Homo sapiens: one gene and its partner. The protein of the gene in region 1 purifies or fractionates together with the protein of each later gene. This does not show direct contact. Each region holds a gene or a part of one and is shown in the gene's direction. Other genes may lie near its edges.

Evidence for each region. Proteins that work in one complex are often made in the same cells at the same time.
Region 2: the proteins of PROK2 (region 1) and TMOD1 purify together in Homo sapiens (affinity purification with mass spectrometry; one large-scale study listed by BioGRID and IntAct). This does not show direct contact.

What each region holds. Positions count from the first base shown.
Region 1 is NC_000003.12:71,782,349-71,786,601, reverse strand, and holds the start of PROK2 (prokineticin-2 isoform a precursor), read left to right. Parts: upstream 1-1,453; 5' UTR 1,454-1,549; coding exon 1,550-1,645; intron 1,646-4,253.
Region 2 is NC_000009.12:97,564,166-97,567,665, forward strand, and holds part of TMOD1 (tropomodulin-1), read left to right. Parts: coding exon 1-3; intron 4-1,682; coding exon 1,683-1,790; intron 1,791-3,500. UniProt on the Homo sapiens protein: Blocks the elongation and depolymerization of the actin filaments at the pointed end. The Tmod/TM complex contributes to the formation of the short actin protofilament, which in turn defines the geometry of the membrane skeleton.

The sequences.
Region 1 (4,253 bases):
CATGAGAACACGTGTGAAAAAGGTTTTTAAAAATCAGCCAAAGATTGGGGTTTCCAAATATTCAGCTGTTTAACATTCAGATAATTGCCTGCCTTCCCCCCGCTATCCCCCACATTTCGTCTGAATGCTTTGGCACGGGGGAGCCCCACAGTCTGAAAGTAACTCTGTCCCAACTCTCCTTACTGCATTTATTAAAGAGGCTGAAAGACGCATCTGCTTTTCAATAGTTTGCGGTTCTTAAGAGACCAGGAAAGCCAGAGGTTCTGACTATTCAGGAAGAAAGTTGGGTTTCCCAAAACGGGCAAGCAAGTTCGGTGTGGTCACATCTAGGTATTCTTGACGTCATTTTTGTTGAGGGAAACAGGCTGCAGTTTTTGGAGCCAGGCTAGGATGAGAGATGGAGGGCAAATCTGTCACTTATTCTTTCCTGGTGTGCCTGGAACCCACTAGACACTCAATTCATGTTTACGTGAATGAAGGAATCACAATAACGCCCTATCGCATCTGTAAAACCGAAGGGTGATTTTCCTGGGCTGGAAAGTTTAAGAAAGAAGAGAGAGCTGCGTACCTAGGGCTTAAGGGGCCTCAGGCTGGCACTCGAAACCAGGCGTTCTCATTTCCCTTTGGCATCACCCTGAACGGCTGTGCCTGGAGCTGGCGCGGGGCTGAAGAGGGGAGGAAATACATGTGAGGAAAATCAGAGGAGAGGGTCGGGAACAGATGTGGGCATAAAGGGAAGGCCTCTGACTTGAAATAAACAAATAGGAGTCCCGCAGCTGGAAGGACAAATCCTTTCACGTCGCGGGTGATGTGGGATTGGGGCGATTTTGCTCTCCCTTTGTTCTTTCCCCTGCCTTCCACGTTTCCAGGGTATTTGATTGATGTCTGTCTTCTCTGTTAAGTTATTCCACCGTGAGGAGAGAGCCGGTGGCAGTACCTGGCACGCAGCGGGCGCCCAGTATAGACCTGCTGAACAAACGAATGGATTCAGGGGCTGCTGTGTCCCCCTCACCCACCCCCCGCCCCCTATGTGTCCACAGCGCCCCGCACGTAGTAGGCGACCCCTAAACATCTGTACAGCAAATGATTTGCAAGTTTTCGGCGCTGAGCACGTGGAGCTTTGGAAACCAGGACAGCAAATGAGTGTCTCGGAGACCACAAAAGCGGTTCCGGCGCGTGCGAAAGGCGGTGGCTGGGCGACGGCGGAGGGAACGGCGCAGAGCGGGGCGCCCCGCCGGGAGCGCTGCCTGCGTGGCGCCCGAGGCGGGGGCGCGGGGGGCCGCGCATAGCACGTGCTCGTCTGGGAGCCGGCCGGGCCGAGGCGGGCGCGCGTGTGCGCGTGGGGCGTGGGGTGTGTGCCCGCGCCGTGCCCCCCGCGTGTGCTGCCGGGCGGGCGCCGGCGTGAGTCACGGCGGGGCTAGCCTTTATAACGGCCCGGAGGCTCGCGGGAGCCGCCGCGCCCGTCCGCCCGCCGCTCCGCGCTCCACCCAGCGCACCCGGGCCCCGCGCCCCCAACTGCCTCCGGCGGCCGCCCAGTCCCGAGGGCGCCATGAGGAGCCTGTGCTGCGCCCCACTCCTGCTCCTCTTGCTGCTGCCGCCGCTGCTGCTCACGCCCCGCGCTGGGGACGCCGCCGTGATCACCGGGGTAAGCGGCCCGGGCGCACCTGTCTGCCCCTGATGCGCGCCTGGGATGTGCCCAGGGGGCTTGGGACGGGGACCCTGAAGGGCAGGCTAGAGGCAAAGGGAGGGTCGCCCTGGGCGGGGACACCTGCCCCTGTCGCCCCTTGGTGCACTTGGGAAAATACCCAGATCCAAAAGCAGCAGACGGCTGGGGACACTGGGCGCGTCCTGGAAGAAACAGTGACAAGGATGTCGCCCACCACCTTTATTACCACCTTCTCCCGCTTACTTCTCCCTCATCACCCACGGCCTCACTCCTCGCATTTTTCTTCTGTTAGGCTGAAAGAAGTTTCTCTCTGAGTCTTCTCAAGTACTTTTGGAGGCTCTCCAACCTCGAACCTTAAAATTTGACGGCCCCTTCCTGAAATGCAAAGGACCAAGACGAATTCCCCAAGTGCCCAGAGTCTTAATCCTACAGTCAAAGAGTTTGCTCCCCGATGCGTCCTCCGCAGAAACCCTTTGAAATCGCTTGGTCCAGGGCCATGTGAGCGCTTTGAAAAGCAATTGTGGGAGCTTCCTTCTGGGTTCCGGGGCTTTCCCCCGCGCTCAGGGTCTTGAGGTATCCCCATAAAAGTTTTAAATTTCTAATTCCTGGCAAAGCACCTCCAGTGCTCCAGCATAATGATGGAGTAGGTTGCTGTGTAGATGTTTAAACTTAGAGACGATGTTTTCATCTTTTCTGTAAGTAGGAACTAGTTCAGTTCTCTCCCACTCTCAACAATTTTGTGTGGATCTGAAAAAATTGGGTTTGCAGTACAATACTAAATAGTCTAGTTTACATTAACAAGGCAAAACTGCTATCATTTCCTGGTTGTTCAACTTCTTTACTGTTTTTTAAGTGAGGAATTATTTCACACCTTCATTAAATTACTTCAAATATTTAAGTGCACATAATGGGATTTAAATAAAACGTCTATGTTTGAAATGTTGATACATAGATAATATCATTTGACTTTAAAGGAAGTATCTTTGTCTTGAAAAAATCAAGCTCTATTTTCTCTATATTAGTTATTAGGTTTATAGAATTTTGAAAGTCCTTTTGCTATGACAGCATTTGTATATATCCAACAGATATTTAACTGTAAGCTCTGTGATATTTATTAGAAAAGAGATTTTTTCAAAAAATTACTTGCATAGCTTTGCCAGTCCATGTGGTTGAGAAAAACTTTTTGCAGGTCTTTCTAATACATGAGAATTGAAACATGATTGGATTTTTTTCTCCCTCTTCTCCTGCTGGCTCATTTAAAGTTTCTCCTAATCCTCTGAGCCCAAGATCCCTTTGCAATATAAGTATCTTTTTGTTCCATTCACAGGACAACACTATCTGAATAGATTTGCAATGGGTTAAGGATGAAGGGCATTAGGAAACAGCTGTCTAATTAAAAATATATAAACCTATGCAACTCTTTGTAAATTTTCCAAGAACTGAAGCTTTTGTTACAAAATAAAATTTTATCACATTGGCTGTCTATCTGTTAGAGAGGCTTAGACTGGGCTTATTATATAGTTATGTGTGCTGTTTTTGTTGTTGTTATTTTAACTCAGTGTTACAAAAAGAGAATTTTAAAAATGTCTCTAAAGCAACAGGGCAATAAAATGTAGTTATGTCTCCATGACAGGAACCATCTGGATTCAAATGAAAAACTCAGTAACTTATCAAGATACATTGTGTATAGCATGTTAAACATCCAGGTGATTGAATTTTAAAAGATTTTGGCTGGATTTTTGATTGGTTCATAAAAAAAAGCTCATGGGGCCTCAAAATTCGAGGTATTGAGCATCTGTTGAAATAAAATGCTGGCTAAAACTTTCACCTGACATCCACAGTTTTTTGGGTAGTGTATGTAGGTATTTTGAAATTGATTTATATGCCCACATAGATTTGTTAAAACTATATTGTAAAAGATCATTGACTAGACATCTTATTTATGGGATGTAATGGCTACATATACATGATTTCTGGCATGCAGATAAAAATTGGAAAATTGAAACATTTACATATTGTCCTATAAAATCCAAACACCTCAAGGTGAAATTTTTAGCTTTTATCCAGATACTTTGTTTAAATAGACTGAGAAATAAATTCTAATGAGGGAAGTAAATGAACTTTAAAGCAAAATAGTTGGTTACTTTTAATGAGAAATAATGTTAAGAATGTACCCATATTTTTATATCTTGAGAAGTTATGACTGTCCTCAAAACTAAGAATTTTGAAGGACTGTTTTAGTTGTTTCCACTAATTGTACATTTAAATTTGTGCCTAGATGATAGAGGTTTTAGTTTCTTACATATATAGTACAGGATGTTTTTATCTTATCACTACCAAAACAGATTACTGCCCACGGTTCAAACAAAGCATTCTATTTTTTGTTGGTTCTAGGAAAGAATAATAGTTCTTCAGATCCATTTTCATGCAAATAGATTTAGATTTTATTATTTATTTCTATTTACTAGAGTATGGAAATTCCTCCATAGTTGATTGTTTCATTGTATGTATTTACAACTTTTATATTGAAAGCAGGTGACTTGAGTAATTACTATTGACAATTGCACCTGTTACTTGCATTTCTTAA
Region 2 (3,500 bases), on another chromosome or scaffold:
CGGGTAAGGTCCATTTATTTCACTTTACCTGTGTGTGGCTGGGGGAGGGGGAACCATGTCACCCAAATGCAAACGGTCCAGGGTTGGTTGTGCAGAGTAAACAGGGTCCTGTTTGGATTCTGGGTGTTTCTGCATTGGGAATAGGGACAAAACCTTTGCAAATGGGAGCCTTTAAGAGGGGTGGGCAGTGTAAACAAGTGCATCTGGCAGTCCTGGTTTCTTTCTGAGGATGATATCAGGCCCAGATGTTTAGCACGGGCCAACCCAGCTTTGATCTGGAAACCTGCCACGTTATTCAAAACACTGAGAGATTCTCCGAGATAAAATCATGAGTCAGACACACGCTGCTGCATGGGATCTCAAGGCTGGAAAAGTCCGGTGCCCACTAGGCTCGGGGGTAACACAGGCCCTGGGCAGGCCCCTCCCCTGTGCCATCGCTGCTGCTATATCACGTTCATATTCAGCCTTGTTTTACAGCCACAGAAGGGAGCTGTTGGCCAAAATGTCCAAAGCGATATCCCAAGCTGTCTGCCCTTTTCTCTGTGCACATTTCCTTATGTGATCCCGGGGCAGGGGAGGGACAGGTGGACAGGCAGTCTCACCCTGAACAGGCCGCCGCAGGAAGAATTCAGAGACAAATGCAGCTTTCTACCCACCTGCTGAGCCCAGAGACCAGTGGATTAGTTCTGGGAGGGGGGTGGGGGTAAGACTAGAAGCCAGCCCCCCATGCCCCTGCTCCACTTTCTTTCCTTCTCCACTTTATTTTAAGCAGCTGCCAGCCCCACGGCACCATCAGATTGGAAACCTGCACCCTAGTGTTCACCCCCACCTGGCCTCCCCATGCTCTGCTCCCATGGGAGCTAAAGTGACGCTCTGAGAGATTGGTAAAAACACAGCCATGTTTTCTTTCATGTGCCCAGTAGGAGACATTGGCACAATTCAGAATGCTGCCCACTGGCAGTGAATGCTGCCTCAGGGCCACATGAGGGATGGAATCTCCCTGTGAGGCCCCAGCCTCCTCTGGGCCTCAGTTTCTCCTCTGCACTGTGAGCCTGTTGGACCAGATCAGTGGTTTTCACCTGAGAAGATTAAAAAATATATACCAACGCCCAGGCCTGACCCTAGAGATTCTGATTCTATTGTTCTGGGCCGGCCCAAGCATCACCATTTTGTAAAAGTTCCCCAGGAGTCTCTGATGTGCCGCTGGAGCAGAGACCCCCTGGGGTAGATGTCTCTTAAAGAGTATCATATGCAACCCCCTTACCTGTTTTCCAGAAACAGGGCCAGAGAGGGCAGGAGGCTTCCACAGAGACACCTAGCAAGTCAGGAACATTGCCGATCATTGGGACCAAGGCCAGGTTCCAGCCCCTCTCACACCCCTAGTCCTAGCTCTTTGCACAATACTACACGCCTTAATTTTTGCCTCTTCTCTGGCCCCCAAGTGCACAAAGAAAGAGGTTACAGGTCTTATCTGAAATTTTCAGGGAGGATTTTCTAAATCTGTTTACCAGAAAGTTCTCCCCAGATTTCAGTCGTCCGGGACAAAGCCTAAACCTTTTGCCCATTCAGCTTTTTGGCCAGAGACTTGCCAGGAATCAGAGAGTAGCCAGGCTAATCCACCTGCCTCAGCCTGTCCCAGAGGAGGCTTCTGGTCACTCTCTCTGTTGCCTTTCTTTGTGCAGAATATCCCCATCCCCACCCTCAAGGCATATGCAGAAGCCCTGAAAGAAAACTCATATGTGAAGAAGTTCAGCATCGTGGGGACACGGAGTAATGACCCCGTGGCGTATGTATGTACCTTTCTGTTCTGTTGCATTGTGGCTGGGGGCCTTGAAACAGAAGGGTTGAAATATGTGGCCTCAGGACTGGTTGTATCCCACTAACAAAGAGCTCTATGTGGTACAGTGGAAGGCATTGGACCAGGAGCCATGAGGGGTGTAGAGGGAACAGCCATCACCTGGCACCACCTACACGTCATCCTGGCCAATCCTCACACCCACTTCTGGTCTCAGATGTGCAGTTCTCCCCACTTTGCACTTAAAAAATCTAGGGTTCGGAGAGGTCAGGCAACTTGTTTTGTCCAGTCACACAGCAAGTGAGAGGTGGACCTGCAAGTCCAGTGCAGTCACGTGACCCCTAAATCTTCACTCGGCACATCATATTAGAACAAGAGCCTGCCCTTCCCTGTTCCTCAGTTTTTCCATCTCTAAAATCAATGGTTTTGGTTGGGCGCAGTGGCTCACACCTGCAATTCCAGCACTTTGGGAGGTCAAGACGGGTGGATCACTTGAGGTCAGAAGTTCGAGACCAGCCTGGCCAACATGGTGAAACCCCGTCTCTACTAAAAGTATAAAAATTACCTGGGCTTGGTGGTGCATGCCTGTAATCCCAGCTACTCGGGAGGCTGAAGCAGGAGAAGCACTTGAGCCCAGGAGGCGGAGGTTGTAGTGAGCCGAGATTGCACCACTATACTCCAGCTTGGGCGACAGAGCGAGGCTCCATCACAAAATAAATAAATAAATAAATAAAAATTTAAAAAAATAAAAATGATGGTTTCATCAGCAGGTCCCAATGACCAATTTTATTTTATAAGTCTCAAAAGATATTTCTGATCAAATTAAATTGTACTTACTCTGAAGTAGCCATCAACTCTTCTTTTTAAACATCCAGCACATATGTATTGAGAGTCTCTCTGTGCCCAACGCTGAATTAGGTTCTGGGAATACAATTGTGACCAGTCTCAGCTTCCACTTTCATAAAGATTCTGGTCCATTTGGCCAAGCAGACAACTAAAGGGTAACAGTACAGTGCAATTACTGCAAAGCTAGATTCCTGCAAGAAGGGCAGAAGCTAGTTTATCAGGGCTAGTAATTAACCATTTAGTAGCAATCGATTTTTTTCTGATTCTTAAAATAGGTAAGACAGTGTTCTTTCATATTTTTGAAATAATAGAAATAGCTCACAGTCTCTCATTGCTGTCAGTGGGGAACCTCTGGATTGATGACCTCTGACCTCAGATCTCCATGGTTCCTTGCCCATAGGAACACAGCTGGCAAAGCCACATGCCCTGTATGCTACTATGTCATGGGTCAGAAACCAAGCACATCCATTCTGGCCCTCAGCTCAGGTCCACAAATGTTTTTTGGGCATGGACTCTGCCAGACCAACAGCTGATATCAGCCTATGCACACCAGTATGCCCGTGTCAAACACTGAGATGCTTCTGGGCCAGTTGGTAAATCAGGCTGCCAGAGCTCTGTCAGGGCCCCCACCGCCTGCCCTAGCTTTTCTCCTGGCCCCGGTTCCTCCACTGGGACCCAGCATACAAGGAGTTAACACCTGGCAAGACAGGGCCTCCAGGACCTGCTCAGCCACCAGCATGTCCAGTTGGATCAGCCTAGCAGGTTGCCTACTGGTTGTTATTTTGATTTTTTTTATTAGATTTGATTAAGCCAGGCCAGGCCTTTCCTGGGAGCAGGAAGGTTCTGGTGGAAGACACAG